Regions from separate parts of the Homo sapiens genome. Here region 1 is linked to region 2. A link means that fine-mapping ties the variant in region 2 to the expression of a gene that starts in the linked region. Tissue or cell type: whole blood. Region 2 holds a variant in brackets; the other region holds the start of a gene. All regions are shown on one strand. Distances are from middle to middle.

What was found. PIP is the estimated chance that this variant, and not a neighbour inherited with it, causes the effect.
Region 1: UXS1 starts here. The variant in region 2 is fine-mapped to the expression of UXS1 in whole blood (TOPMed, PIP above 0.99).

What each region holds. Positions count from the first base shown.
Region 1 is chr2:106,190,039-106,198,219 of GRCh38, forward strand. It overlaps UXS1 (UDP-glucuronate decarboxylase 1), which reads right to left and starts at 4,263. Exons shown (of 15, transcript NM_001253875.2): 1 at 4,110-4,263. The coding sequence starts at 4,203. RefSeq lists an enhancer at 3,356-3,405 and a silencer at 3,736-4,345.
Region 2 is chr2:106,157,543-106,165,723 of GRCh38, forward strand. It overlaps UXS1 (UDP-glucuronate decarboxylase 1), which reads right to left. Exons shown (of 15, transcript NM_001253875.2): 3 at 7,194-7,257; 4 at 6,125-6,168; 5 at 516-576. Among named protein-coding and RNA genes, the nearest start is that of UXS1, 33 kb to the right of the region's middle. RefSeq lists enhancers at 3,636-3,695, 3,706-3,795, 7,529-8,048. The variant T/C (reference allele first, on the strand shown) is at 3,397.

The sequences.
Region 1 (8,181 bases), 32 kb after region 2:
TTCTTCAGGAAGGGGTGCTGACCAAGGGGCATCCTGATGCTCATGAACATCATGGGGGAAGACGCGACAGACAACTGGCAAAGAGTTTGGAGTTGGATCTGTCATACTACATAGAAAGCAAGCAAATTAGAACACCAGCCAATTATTCGCTGGAGAAAACAAAAAGTAACCTACAACATGACTCACTAGGAACAGCATTTACATAGTCATGCTTGTAAACACTGCATGATGAGCTCCGTGAGATTATACCACATCTATATAGGAGGGTGGAGAGCATGTACAGGGGCAAAGAGAAGAAAAAAATCATCTCCCAAAGAACAAAGTCACTAGGTAATATCTACAACTGAAAAATCAGGAAGCCAGGTGATTCAATGGCACAATGATAAATACCAAAATAATCAACTAAAAGAAGTGAAATGCCTAGGGGTTGGGTGCGGTGGCTCACGCCTGCAATCCTAGCACTTTGGGAGGCTGAGGTAGGCAGATCACCTGAGGTCAGGAGTTTGAGACCAGCCTGACCAACATGGAGAAACCGTCTCTACTAAAAATACAAAATTAGCCGGGCGTGGTGGCGCATGCCTGTAATCCCAGCTACTCAGGAGGCTGAGGCAGGAGAATCGCTTGAACCCAAGAGGCCAAGGTTGCAGTGAGCCGAAATCACGCCACTGCACTCCAGCCTGGGCAACAAAAGCGAAACTCTGTATCAAAAAAAAAAAAAAAAGAAATGAAGTGCCTGCTTCTGGGGAGAGGGAAATGGTGGCAGGGGATACTGTTTGGCCCTGCAGAAGCTATTTAACTTTTTACACTATATGCATGTTAAAAAAAAATACGTTAAAGGTAATTCAAGCAGTCTGCCCAGGAGCTACCTAGTAGGTTGGCCTGATTTTTGATTCAGCACAAAGGGCAGAAACTGAGTTCTTTCAATGAGCCATTAGCACTGCTATAAATGTTTCAAGGGCTGAAACACATAAGACACAATCCCTGTCCTCAGAATCGGGATTTCATTGAGAAAAAAAAGCCAACATATGAATGGGAAAGAACTCAAGTACAATGCAAGTTAGCAGGTGGTCAACCCTAAGACATGAAGAAGAGTTATGTGGTATCAAGGAGGAGACTCAGGGCCAGAGTAGGTAACAAAGACTTTGGGAAAGATGTAAGGAGGAGAAGGAGAAAGGCTAACAGAACTTGAGTTCTGTTCCCGAAACAGGGAGGGCATTTCTGCAACGGAGGCTGGCTAACAGTGAGGGTGTATATAATTGGGAAGTATGGACAGTTTTTTCAAACAGTGGTGAGATTTTACTTGTAACAGGGAGGGCAAGATTACTAATTAGGAAAAGCAGAGATTAGAAAACACAGACATCACGGTTGAGGGACTACATTTTCAGTGTCCTTCGGTGTTATCAATCACAAGCCCTGTAACATTTTTCCCTGCAGAGTGGCTCAGACTTAGCATACCTGCTCCTTATTAACACTGCCTCCACCCTGTGTTAAACCCCTCATAGCTAAAATCAACCATGTCGTGGGCTGCACCCCAGGCCTGCCTGCCTGCTTGCCTGCTCTGGCCCCTGTCTGCCTGGGCAGCCTCATGGCTGTAATTTTGTTTTCACACTCCAACAATACCATCCTTCTTTGCATTCCTAGAATACTGCCTGCTCTTGGCTGCCGCAGGACCTCTGCACACACTGCTCCTCCTAGAACACGCTCTCTCCTATGACTTCCCTGTTAACTCCTACATAAGCCGTCCATTCTCAGCTCACTTTTGATTCCTCAACAAAACAAACGTACCTGATTGCTCTCACTCAGGAGTTCCTGGCATAGTTCTCATGCATTCCTTTTCCTCACACCAGTTTGTAATTTAACCTTCATTTCCAATTCATGCCCACCTCACCATCTTGGCCAGTGGGTCTCAAAGTGGTGTCAGGTCACAGCAACAGCATACAGAACAACCTATTAGTGATGCAGATTCTCAGGCCACATCCCAGACCAACTGAATCAGAAACTTGAGGTGGGAGACAAGCAGTCTGTGTTTTTTAAAAAAAACCCTACTGATTCTGATGCATGCTTAAGTCTGAGAATCAACGTGCTACACTATGTGGTATAGGGTCTGTACCATCACAGCACAGACCAGTTAAGTTTTAGCACCCCATGGTGTCTCCTAGTGCCAAATTCAGGGACAACAGTAAGGACTTGGTAAGATTTCCTGGTCAGATGAATGATTGGTTAAAAAACTTTCCTGCTGGGAGCGGTGGCTTACGCCTGTAATCCCAGCACTTTGGGAGGCCGAGGCAGGCGGATCACGAGGTCAGGAGATCGAGACCATCCTGGCTAACATGGTGAAACCCCGTCTCTACTAAAAATACAAAAAATTAGCCGGGCGTGGTGGCGGGTGCCTGTAGTCCCAGTTACTTGGGAGGCTGAGGCAGGAGAATGGCGTGAACCCGGGAGGTGGAGCGTGCAGTGAGCCGAGATCGCGCCCCTGCACTCCAGCCTGGGCTGAACAGAGCGAGACTCCGTCTCAAAAAAAAAAAAAAAACTTCCCATGGCTCCATAAATCCCCTACTTTATTAATTCTAAACCCTTGCAGCGACTATAGAATACCCCCAAAATAAACATTGAAACTGCTGTTCGAAGACCTGGGTTCTAGCTCCTGCTCCCAGGCCTTTCTGGGTTCAAATTTTGGCCCTCCTTCTCTTACTATCTGTGTGATCATCCATAAATTTCCTAATCTCTCTTGGCCTTAACTTCCTCACCTCTAAAATAGGAATCATTATAGTACCGATTTCCCAGGGTTGCTCAATGATTGAGACAATGGCACTAAGAATCATGACTCACACAGTTAAGCACTCAACAAATGTAGGTAGTATTACTGCCATAATAATAGTTATTCAACTTTAAATGGTCTTTCCTCTTGGGTCTCAGCTTTCTTACTCAAGATTGACCACACACACACTTTAGACTAGTTCTTCCTCCCTTGCAAAACTACACACATCTAACACCCATCCGACGCCTGAAACCTCCCCTAGCAACCCGGAGTCCTGCTGGGGTTTTCCAGCTCCACCTCCTGAACAGCTGGGCTGTAGCACACAGGCTGGATCTACTCATACTTGCCTTCCTAGAGCTCAACTGAAGTCACTTCAGACAAGTGAAGTACCCACTCACCTCTGGAATCAGATCTTGGTAACGCCAACAGGTTAGCAGGTGATTTCATTTCAGTGTGTGTCTGGGTGGCTAGCATTCAAACGCAGCTCACACTGGGAGCTATTTCTAGTCCAATTTTGCTACTTGGTAACGTATTAATAGCATCAATTAAAACATTCCCAACGAATAGATCTTTAAAAGGACGGTTTCTGACTTCCCTAACAAGCAGAGGGCCGACCACCTGCCTGCGAAGTGCCCCTCCTGCCCTGTCTCCAGGCAGCATGCTGTGAGCGATGACAGAAACTGGACCCGCGCACAGAGAAGCTGCAGGCACGCCCTGCCCGGCCACCCAGCTGCCTGCCTGCTTCGCCCGGCCGCCGAGCCCCGGGGGAAAACCTAGAATGGGGATGCCGGTGCGCCCCGACACCTGGGCACGGCCGCGGGCCGGGGAGCCGCCCACACTTGGCTCCCCAAGAGTTAAACGCTGAGTAATTTTCCTGAGGAGCAAACAGTCGGAGCGGGGGCTCTGCCAATGGCCACAGTATTTTTATCCGACTTAACCGACACCGCGGCGCGACCTCGGCTGTCCCCAAGGGTATCCCCACGCGGCACGCTCCGGAGTCCCCGACCGGGACCCTCGCCGGCTCCCAGCGCGACATGGACGACAGCGCCGCCGCCGAGTCCCCCGCGCCCGGGCAGGAGGCAGAGACCTGGGGCCGCCCGAGGACTGCTAGGGGCCCCTCCGCCCGGGGTCCGCGCCCGGGCCTAAGCGGTAGGGGGTGTGCGCCCAAGTTGGCCCGCTTTGCTGCAAGAGTGGAAAGGGGTGGGAGCAGAAAGCGCCGGCCCCGCCCGGGGCGGGGAGCAACGCGGGGCTGCAGGGCCGCCTCGGGGCCCCGAACCACCGCCGCCCGGCCCACCGCGGCGCCGGGGAATGAATGGGGCTCCCCAGCTGGCAGCGGGCGCGCACTCACAGGCGACGTAGGCCAGCAAGGCGATGCCCAGCAGCAGCTTCATCCTCCTGCGGTTGACGGCAGACACGAGGCGCAGCAGCGCCTTGCTCACCATCCCCGGGAGCCGCGCGGGTCCAGGGCCCTACCGCGCGGGGGCCCGCCTGCTGCACAATGCGCGGCGGCGGCGGCGGCAGCGGCCCCGAGAGCCCCGCCTCCTGCCGCCGCGCGCCCCCGCCCCCGCGCGCCTGCTTCCTGCTGGCGGGATCACCGCGCAGGCGCGCCTCCACCCCCTTCCTCCGGCTCCGCCCCCGCCCCTCCGGCTTCTCTACCCGCAGGCGCAGTTGCCGCCTTTCTTGCCTTGGTTTTCGAAGAATGTGACCTGGAGGGCTGGTGGGCGGTGCGGCGCGCCGCGGCGCATGCGCGTTCCGGTCTGTTTTCCCTGAGTTAAAGCGCGCGGGTGCCAGCCGGGAGGTGCGGCTGGATTCGTTTCGCTGAGGTGCGTCCCCAACCCAAGGGCACGACTGCAGTGGCCAGTTTCCGAGCCCCGCCCGGAGGGGGGCACGCGGTGGGCATTCCGGTGTTGCAGTGAAACGAAACTTATTTGCTAAACTTGGCCGAGCCTTAGAAGTTGAATGCCTGCCTCAGAAAGTTGCCTCGTTCTCTGGGCTGTTTAGTTGGCTTTTTTTAGTTAGAATATCGGCAGCGAAAATGATAAATCCCCTAAACCTTGCCGAAGTAAAAACTGGCTGCGTTTTTTTTCCTTGGCTATGATCAACTGGGGTGCCTTTGTTTTAATAATAGTCTTTTATTATTATTTTAAAAAGCAGTGCTAAGTATATTAATTTAGGATAGACTTGGAAAAGAAAAGATGAAATTGCGCTGTCTCTGCCTAGAGAAAAACCCTGACCATGTTGTCGTGTGTGTTTCATTCAATCTTTTTGTTGAGTATATCTGTTTTATGAGTGCTGTACTGATTGCATAGGAGGTACCTGTGTTTAAAAAGCATTTACTGAATGATGATTACAAGCAAGGAGATGTATCAGAAGATCCACAGATAATCGGAAGCTTGTCATTGGATCTGGAGAGAGCTGGTCCCATGGAGGAAAAAAAGACAGGTACACACAGATGTGTGTGATGCCACATTAAGAGAGATCCCGGATTTGGGATCTGCAGGCTTCAAGAGGTCATCTTCAGCTATACGGAGAAGTTGAAGTCAGCAGCGGCTCTCCTACCTCTTGGAACCTCAGGCCATTTTGCAAAACTTAATAGATCACCCTCCTTTAGATTTATTAGAAACCTCCAAGAAAAGGAAATATGGCAGCTGGTACTAAAGCAGCAGCTTTATGTTACATCTTTCAAACTATAGTGCAAATGATGTGATTCTGATAAAACCTACCTCCATCCTACCCCTCCCCTAAACCTGTTGAGAATCCCTGACTAGGAGGAAACACTGAGCGGTTTGCTAAGGCGGATTGCCCCTGCTATGCATGCTGCCCATAGATGGAGTGGACTTCTTTCGAGAAGCCCAGCTCCCTGACTCTGACGTGTCCAAGGAGGCTGCCAAGTGACAAAACACCTGGCATGGGAGCCTGAGTCCTGGGTTCCCAGAGGGGCCAGGCCCCCAGAGCACACCAGTTTGGAACAAATCGATTTTGTTTGTAAGTCTGCATTTCCTCGTGGCTTTCTGGCTATGGTTTTTGAAAAGAGAACTAGAGCAAGTGGAGCTCTAGGCCTTTCCCATTCCATGACTCCGTGGTTTTTAGATTAAAGATGAGGAGCAGAAATGGAAGAAAATAATAGTTCATTAACATTTGACCTATGGGCAAAATCAGACTGAAGCTTCTAGGCGGATTTCAAGCATTTTAGGTTTTAGGTAGGGTTTAGTTGATAGGTATCCTATTAGACGACAAAGGTCAGAAATTGTGGGGTATTTGCCATTTCTGTACTAAACTCCTTAAGCCCAGCATTCCCAGTTAGCATTTTTTTCTGCTGCTGGACACTACTGCCAACTTCTGCCCTGTGGGATTAAGTATATGGAAATACCGTTAGCAGCTGCAGTTGAAATAGCTGCTGCTGTCATTATTGCCACCCAGAAGGCGGTTGGTGTCCCAGGACACTGGTGTCTTGCTCAGCCGCAGCCAGAATTAAAAAGTAAGCAATAGTAAGTGTGCACCCAGTGGAGGTAAGAAGGCCTGAGGGAGGGAGATGCCAAAGAGACCCTCCAAGCTCCTCCGGGGATCTTGGGCGTAGGCAGCACCATTTCCCTGTGCTCCTTGCCTCTCTTGTTTCTTCCCAGACCCCCTTGTTTCTTCCCAGCCCATCCCCACTTCCCCCGCAGGTTCTGGGCTCATCCCTCCCTGCTCCCTCCCCTTACTGTCAACCCCCTCATATTTCCAGTGGATAGGTTAACAACAATATTTTTGAGCGATTACATATTTTTGAACAAGTTACAAAGGTAGTGTTTTTGACACTCAGGGTAATTAAAAAATGAATTGTAATATGACTTCTAAAGTGTTTAAAGCCTAAGGAGTGGAGAAAATTAACATTTATAAACCTCTACAATGTGCCAGGGACTGTTATGCAATGCACTTTCATTGTTACCTCATTGATATGGTTTGGCTCTATGTCCCCACCCAAATTGTAATCCCCACATGTCAAGGGAAGGACCTGATGAGAGGTGATTGGATCATGGAGGTGGTTTTCCCTATGCTGTTCTCATGATGGTAAGGGAGTTCTCATGACAGCCAATGGCATTTTTTTTTTTGAGACGGGGTCTCACTCTGTTGCCCAGGCTGGAGTGCAATGGCACAATCTCAGCTTACTGCAACCTCTGCCTCCCGGGTTCAAGTGATCATCCTGCCTCAGCCTCCCAAGTAGCTGGGATTACAGGCGCCCGCCACCACGCCTGGCTAATTTTTGTATTTTTAGTAGAGATGGGGTTTCACCATGTTGGTCAGGCTGGTCTTGAACTCCTGACCTCAGGTAATCCACCCGCCTTGGCCTCCCAATGTGCTGGGATTACAGGTGTGAGCCACCACACCCGGCCGGTTTTAAAAGTGTTTGGAAGTTTCTCCTTCACGGCATTTCTCTCCTCTCCCCTGCCGCCATATGAGGAAGGTCCTTGCTTCCCCTTCACCCTCTGCCATGATTGTAAGTTTCCTGAGGCCTCCCCAGCCATGCGGAACTGTGAGTCCATTAAACCTCTTTCCTTTATAAATTAGCTAGTCTCCAGCAGTTCTTTATAGCAGTGTGAAAACTACTAACACACTCATTTAATTCTTGCAACAGCCCTGTGGGGCAGGGTTGCCATTGTTGCTGCTCTTTAAAAAAAAAAAAAAAAAAAAAAATTTTAAATTAATTTTTAAATCAACAAAAATTGTATATATTTATGATGTATCATATGAGGTTTTAATATATGTATAGATGGTGGAATAGCTAAAACTAGTTTGCTTCCACCTTTTGGGTATTGTGAATAATGCTGCTGTGAACACAGGTGTACAAATATCTCTTTAAGACCCCACTTTCAGTTCTTTTGGGTACATTACCCAGAAGTGGAATTTTTGGCTCATAAGGTAGTTGTGTGTTTAATTTTTTTGGGAACTTCTATACGGTCTTCCTTAAGGGCTGTACTGATTTACATTGCTGCTGTCATTAATAGATGAGGAAACTGAGGCTCTGAACATTTGATAAGTGTCCCAACACTTGGTAGGTGGCAGGGTTACCAGTTACTTGGCTTGGTAAGTAACAGGGTTACCAGTCACAGAGCTGGGAGTGTAGGGCTGGAATTTTAAGCCATGATTTTCCCTGTGTGAGGATGCTTTTCTGGAGTTGAGTGCAGACTTGCACAGAAATGACTATCACTCATAGCAAAATGTGGTGAGTGGTCACTGTGGGACAGGGTCGCATGAATGGCTAAGGAATTTCACAACAGGAAGGTATGCTTCCAGGTCATGGACTGTGGTTTGCCATGCCGGGACCAGCTGACAGGCTCACAAGAGCTGACAGTTAGCAACTGTTCCTCTGGGATTATTTGCACCATGGAAATAACGCAATTGCTACATACCAGGGATTCTTTTTTTTTTTTTTTCTTTTA
Region 2 (8,181 bases):
TGTGTCCACACGAAAACTTACACACATGCATTCATAGCAGCATTATTCACGATAGCCTCAAGGTGGAAACAACTCCAAATACCCATCAATTGAGAAACAGGGAAACAGTATGTGGTACACCCATACAATGGAGCATTGTTTAGCCATGAAAAGGAATGAAGTGTACTGATTGATGCTACAGCTGAGTCTTGAAGACAGATCAAATATCACATTATTTCTTTCAGACGAAATGTTCAAAAAAGGCAGATTCATAGAGATAGAGAGTAGTTTTAGTGGTTTCCCAGAGCTGGCGGGAGGGGACTGGGAAATGGAAGTGACTACTAATGAGTACAGGACTCTTTTTTGGGGTGATGAAGAAACTGTGGAATCAGAATGCGGTGCTAACTCTGTGGACATACTATAAGCCACTGAATCGTATCTTTGAGAAGCGTGAATTCTATGATATGTGAATTATCTCTCAACGAAAAAAGAAAGTTTCTTAATATTACAAATACTATTCAGGTGTGCAAACTTACCAAAATTCTTTTCCGATCCTTTTCTGATAAAAACTTTACTGGTGGGTATTTCTGGGTAAAGCTGTATAATATAAAGAGATTCAAAAGGAAAAAGTCAAACATCTCATTTGAATATTTTCTCTGTCTACCATCAAAGCATGTGCCAGGTTTTGGGACTGTTATTGTTTGCTCTTCTCTCCACTCTTGAATGAGTGCTGGAGAAACCAAGGAGTCACTAGTTAACTTGAGGTCAAGAGCTATATAACCTGCTCCTTGTTTAGAATCAAGCTAAAGACGTGACTTGAGATTCTATCTCTGAGAAGCAAAAGCGCAAGGAGCTACCGGCTTCCAGCAGCTGCTAAAGCAGGGCAGGCACTACCTCTATTAGTCCAGATAAAACCACACCATGAGGGAGATGGCCGTGAAACTGCCTTTGCAGAATTGTAATAATGAGAGAAATCTAATATGACTGGCTCCATCTAACCTCACAGGCTCAATTTTTGTTTTTATTGTTTTTGCTTATTTTAGTGCAGAGGCCAATATAACTAGGAGAGGAATTTATAGTTAAACGATGAGGCAAGGAAAACTGACCCCCCTCCTTGTTTCGAGATTGAAGCCACATTCCTAAGCCGAGGTTAGAGTTATGGTAGGGTCTGAACTTTGCTAAAGAATAAGCATAAACAATGACCTGCCAACTGCTTAGCTTAGCTGGCTTTTCTATATGTTGCTTCCTGCCCCAGGGTCACTCAAACAGAGGTCGCAAGATTTGTAACTTCTCCAACAACTTCTACAGATAACATCACTATTGTGAATCCTAAGGAAACGGTATTTGAGGTATCTTTCAGATTTAGCATTTTGGCAGACAGACTAAGAGATGTCACCCGGTCCTCAGACTTGGCTTCCATGAATTGATTCAGCTGCCTGAAGACAGTTTAGACACCCCCATGATTTCACACCCAGCCAATCGTTTCAGCTCCCCAGGCCCCCACCCACCAAACTACCCTTAAAAACTCAAGCCGCCGAGTTCTCAGGGAGGCAGATTTGAGAAACCTCGCCCATTCTCACACGTGGCTGGCCCTGTGATTAAACTCTCTCTTCGCTGTAACACCTGTTGTTCTCAGTGCCTTGGTTTTCTCAGGGCAGTCGGCAAGAAGAGCCCACCGGGCTATAATCATGGCATTCTCTGGGTACTGTATCAGGGTCCAGGTGGAAGAAAGCAGCTTCGTGAAGTCACAGGCCCAACGCATGAGGACCGCTCCACAAGAGCGAGAAGAGATATTAATGAAACTTTGTCTCCTGCTCCAGGAATTTTCACAATCACGGCATCCTCTTCCTGACCAGCGTCCCTGGTAAAACGACTGAGCATCAGCATCTTCTGTCTCTGTGGATCTGCTCTGACCCTAAGTCTCACTTATCTTTTGATACCCTCTTGCTGCCCTAAGGTGCCACTGGTCCCCAGCCCACACTGATGTCCCAGGAGCAGGGCAGTGTGATCTGAATATAAAACGTCCAGTGAGAGGTAATAAACACAGAACTGAAATATTCATTTTAAAAGTTATTCAGTTAGGAACAAAAGTGCTTTAAATAAAATCTGAGACATCAGCTTTATGGTCATTATACTAATTGGAAAGGTGTTGTGCCAGGTGGCACCGTCTCCATCCCTGCCCTGTCCCCAGCACAGACACAGCACTAGGATACAGAATGCACTTCCTTAATGGTCGCTGAACTGAAGGGAATATGAAGGGTCATTAGACAGAAGCCCCTGAAGCAGGGGTTTCTCATCTCCAGAAAGCCCTGAGCGTGCTTAAATTGGAGTGAAAGGGCTTTCTATTACAATGCAGACGAATTCCCCCATTAAGAACTTCCAGGGTCTCAAAAGCTCAAGTTCCCCTTGCAGACTACAAAATCAGATGGGAGAGTCTGAGGGCAAGGGTGGGAACCCTGGGGCTCCCCCTTGTGAGCTCACCGACCGTCTTTAGTACTTGCCGCCCATAGGAAGTGCCTCAGGAAAGTCATCCATGCAGCTGGGGAGCAGGAGCAAGTTCTGCCTTCAGTCAGGAGCGATGCTGTTAGACTGGCGGGAGCGGCACAGATGTCTTGTTTGCCAAGTAACACTTCTTGTCATTCCGCCTCTTCTTCCCTCACCAACTCAGCTAGGGGACGGCACTGTAAATCTCAGAGTTATTTGTGTGCACCTCTCACACCGCTCCAATTGTCCTCATTTCTCTGAGCTCACGATATCCATGTCTTCAGCCTCAGTCCCCAAGTGGCACACCCAGTGCCGTGGCACAGCTGAGACTCTTTCCTTCCCACGACTGCTCATAAGCACCGTGGCTCCTCCGAACTGTCTGTCGTGAAAACGCTGGAGCCGTCTCTGACTCATGACTTCCCCTCACTCACCTTCAGGGCTCCTTCTCTACCGTGTATATGATTTTAGAGTCAAGACCGCTCGGGAATGGGAATATAGCTACATATGGGAAAACGCGGTGCAGGGAGAAAACCAATTCAGTGAGGAGCGGAGGCGCAGGACTGTGGAGTGTGCATCCGGGGCCATGGAAACAAATGTTAATCCAAGCTGTCAGCTTAGAATAGTCCCTATCTGAAAGCTTAAAATGAAATGTGGTGTGCTACTTATACCAAGAGGAAACGGCCAAACCGTTTTATTACAGGAAATGTACTTCAAAGAAATTGAACTGAAGCAAAGGCATGGTTGCCCGACATACGCAGTGACGGGCATAAGATGGACTAAAAAATACTTCAAATGCAGCGTGCTGAAACCTTTAATTTAAAAAACGAAAAATAGGTTGAGTTTCTTGCTTTGTTCTTCTTCAATATGTAGCAGCCAAGTTTTAGATTTCATATGTATACGCTCAAGTAATTAAACTTTTAAAAAACTATCTTA[T/C]ACTCCTCACTTCTTCGAGAAGCCACACATACAAAGCTGAAAAACAGGAAGGGGAGAGTGCCTGTGGGGTCCTCCTCAGTATGCATGTCATCCTGTTTTCCTCCTTGCAGTAATGGGTGACAGAGCACAGTGACTGATAGAGTGCAGTGACCATGTGGGTGCCGTTGGCTGGGCCACATGCTGAGCCAGCTGCCTGGGTGCTCCCAAGCACCTGCTGGACTGACTCAGGGCTGGGCAGGAGCACAAGGCCTTTTTTTTTTTTCCTTTTTTGAGACAAGGTCTTACACTCTGTCACCCCAGATGGAGTGTAGCGGCATAATCACAGCTCACTGCAGCCTTGTATTTCTTGTAGAGATGAGGTTTCATTATGTTGCCCAGGCTGGGCTCGAACTCCTGGGCTCAAGCCATCAGCCTGCCGAGGCTTCCCAAAGTGCTGGTATTACACCGTGCCTGGCCCACAAGGCTTCTTAAAGACCTGTAGCAGGTGAAAATCCTACCCAGTGTACTGGCTCATCCACTTATTCAGGAACTTTCCATTAAGCTCCGTTCTACACTAGGCACTGGGGGTTAAGCAGCAAAATGCAGCAGAGGCATGAGGCCTGCATTCCTAAGCGAGAGAGAAACCAGCAAGCAGAGGCAGAATGAGGTAACAAATCTTTCCTTACAACCCCAAATTAGTCCTTTACTAATCATTAATATTTTATGCCATTCCAGATTAAACTTACTGTTTAGCCAGTAAGCAGTATTCTTACTTAGAATTTAAATTATCATTTGCCATCTATTCAAAGAACATTTAAAGATACAGAGTTAAAATTAAACAAATGGCATATAATCAAAGTATTAAGCAATGGGAGTGTGGTAAAAGAGAAAAAGCCCACATACAATCCATTTACTCAGGATTCTAGAATGACACTGTCTTCTTTCTTTCCCTGTACAAATATAACCTGTAACTTCCAAAAATATCTTTAGTTCTTGGGGGCCACTTTGCTCAAAGTGACAAGCACGTCAAGTAAACCTATTTCCAGTTACATTCTTATCTTGTCAGTGTCAAGATGGTTGTTTGATCATCTTTATCACACACTGAGTCAGGAAAAGTAAGCTAGACGGAGTTCCATCAATTTCCACCGTCACGCTTTTTTAGCCAGGCCTACGCTTGACCTTCTGACACAGTAATGCAGGCACGCGGATCACCTGACTTGCTGACCAACCTGAAGGACGGAACCATTCCAGAATGAGTCACCTGCAAGCAGCCCGAGAGGCAAATGTTTGCCCTTTGCCACTATTTTCAAGGCGGTTTCACAGGTTGACAAGAATAAATTATTAGTAAATTCTTAGGATTGAATTCTTATTTGTGCTTCTCCATCCAGTTTAAAAGCACACACTCAAAGATATCACAAAAGTATCAAAGAGATTGCATAATTCTCACATGTTGAGAGCTCTTGTTTGTAAGCTATTGCCTTAGGGAAGTTATCGAATTGAGACATTTTTCTTTTCATAAATAAATTCTATTGTCTAAAGAAAATAATCACTGGTGGACAAGTTTTTAGACCAATATAGAAAATGTGTGGTGGGTTATTTCTTATTGTTCCAATTTTTCTAAAAAGAAAAAAAAAGCTTCAATTAAGATCTCTCAATTCTGCTGTCTTATCAAAGGCAGATTTTCTGGCTCCCATCCAAGGAAATATTACAAGCTGCATAACTAAAGCACAGAATCATGGCAAAAAAAATTTAAAGCACAAGTAACAACCTTATATTACTAAGGAATCTGTTAAAAATTACTGACAACTTTTGTTCTGATAAGTGCTGAAATTAACAGTTTGCTTGACTGCTCAGTTGAGGATAAGAATCAAGTGAATGACACATTTTGTTTAATGACTCTTCTCCAGTCGTATTTCCCTTCGATCATTTAATGAAAATCAAAGGAAAACTGCTCTTCATTTTTTCATTTTTGTTCTGGACTTGATAAAAGGCTCATTCAATGCTGACACACATCGTCCAAACTCATCCCAATAAGGGGAAAAAATCACATCAACTTTAATAAATGCTGTCATTTTTCTTTCTAAAATTTCTGAAGATTCAACTGCTACTCTAGATAGTTTTCCACATACAGTACGTGCAAGAGGAAAGTCCTGGAGGCTGAGGCTCAGCGGCCTCGGGAGTGCCTGAGAGAGAACCTGAGGGCAATAGTGTCCCAAAGGGTGAGGAGGGGTTCTCTCCGAAATCTGACTCAAATAAACATTTCTATCATATTACATAATTCTTCTGCCCTCTCACTTCACCTGGACTAAATTCTGGAAACCTCCTCATGAACTCTGGTGACAAAAGCAGCTAAATGACTACACATGACACACCATAGGCTCCACATCCTTATTTTGTGGTGTTTGCATATGGTACATTTCAGGCCCACTGGATTGTCCTCCTATTTTGGAATTCTATCCCACTGATCAATATATGCAGAAGTTCAAGGAAAATGTGAGGCCTGGCCTCAACTTCTATGTAATAAATTTGCAGAAATTCAGACGTTCAGAGTTTGAAGAAGGAAGATCTTAACACATCTAGATTGATTCTTCTCCCCATGTTCTATCTGGGTATTACACTCAAAGTGGGGGAAATGCGTATACAGACATTTATTTAGGTTGGCAGAGTTTGGAGCAAACAAACAGAATTAATTACTCAATTGAGACAAACTTATTTTAACTATTGACTTTAAGACAAAAAGTACACATACCTTTTTTCTAAATCTCTGATTTTCTCTCTTAGTGGTTCAACCATCTAGAACAATAATAACAAAAATCAGTTTTAAAGCAAAAACACAGTTCTCAACCCCTTTCACCCCATTCTGATGTTTCAGATAAGGCAAAACAGGTTTTAATTTCTTCTACAAATTAACTTCCAGTTTGAAATTAAGATACACCACTTGCATCACAATGCTAGAATTGAACAGATAAACTGTCCATTTGAACTCTTACTCCATAAATGCCTCGGTTTCTGAGACAATTAATGTTTTTGCTCACCCATCCTACTAGGAAGAATGTAAAAGGTGTTTCAGGCTCATAAAAACAGATCAACACTATCCATCTCTTTTTAGGAACAATCCCCTAAGCATGGCCCACAAAAGCTTAACATCTTGTTTCTGCAATTACTGTGTATACTCATGTTATCAGCTGCAGCACATAAATTGCAGGCTGTGAGTCAACCTACATCCACGTCTGTAGACACTGTGGACTCAGGCAGAAAGACAGCAACTCAAGGGCTTCCCAGGACTCCCTAAGTTGGCTTCAAATCCAAAGTAAGTAACCTCCCATCCCCTCCCCCACAGCCCATGTTACAACGGTCTGGCTGTATCTACATGTATTTAAATAGGAGGTGCATAACTGAGCATAGGTGCTAGCCTTCAGCTGGGTGGGTGTGCAACGTCTCCATCTGTGCACGTGGCCTAGCATCCGATTGGTGGCCATTGTTCTTTTCAGCACCTGTGCCAGTGAGAGGATGTTTGTACTCATCTCTATCTCCCAAAGGCAATCACTTCCCTTTCTCTAAAAAACGCTTACCTGAAAAGTCATGTAAAAGTCTAAATCCATTTTGCCTTTGAGGTAGAATTTGTTTTAATACATCAAAAATGGACCAACAGTAACAGACTGCATGTCCTCTTAAATAAGGGAGTAATTTTTTGAGACACGGTTGCAAAATCACAGAACAGCATCAAGCTGCCACAATAAGAATGACAGCACGAGCAAAGGAAGTAAAATTGACAAGTATACAGATGAAATAGATACAAAAATAGAAAAAAGACTAACCTCTTCAATCTTGCTTTCAATTTTTAGTTCACCATTTTCCTGGATAGACCTGTTGAGTAGAAAGCTATAAAACTGAGATCAACTGAAAGGCTTTGTGACTTTAAGACTGTTTCTGAATAAATTACCCTAACATAACCCAACGGATGCAGACCACCTCTGTCTCCTGCTCAAGTATCAGTCATGTGTACAATTCCCTCCAGAAGGGATGCACCAGAGGAAAAGAAGACAACCAAAGGGAAGGACTCCCCTTAAATCCATCTGTGAACATGCTCAGTATTACCTAATGGATTATTTCCACTAAACTAAAATAATCTCACTGCTATGCTACATCCAACACAGGATTTTAAATTTGAAGCAGGAAGTGCGTCTGTAGGAGTATGTGTTTGTGCCTGCTGGGCTTTCCTGGGGATTTAATGTAAAAATGGAGTCTTTTAAGTAAAACCACAGAGCTCCTTTAAAAGGGATCTGAGCACCCCACCTAGTCATACACAGCAGCCTTTGTCAGGAGACACACACATGCCCTGGTGGTAGGAATCAAATCGACACCATCCCACCCACCTTGCAAAACCCAACTCCACATGAAAAGCCTCCTGAGGGCATAGTAACCTTTTACCCTGGTAGACATGTGCAGCCGCATTACATTACAATACCAACCTAATCATCACAATAGTGATTCTCACAACATAACCAAGTGGAGCAAATTTTCCTTTACATGGAAAACTATTAACAGTACCAAATGGTTTTTACAATAAGTGCTTATTTCTTTTTGCTGATTTTTTTAAAGGCTATTTTTTTTTATTTGGTAAAGAGATAACACGAGTTTTATTTTTACAAGAGTGCCTCCTGCCCTATGAAGAAGCACACACGATGCATACAGGCCTAACGCTGGACTAAATAGGTGGTCTCTGCATCGATACCCACTAGCTGGCCCCCTGAGGTCATGGGCCTGCCATGGCTTCCCGAAGACAGCTCCCTTCTCAGAAGGCTT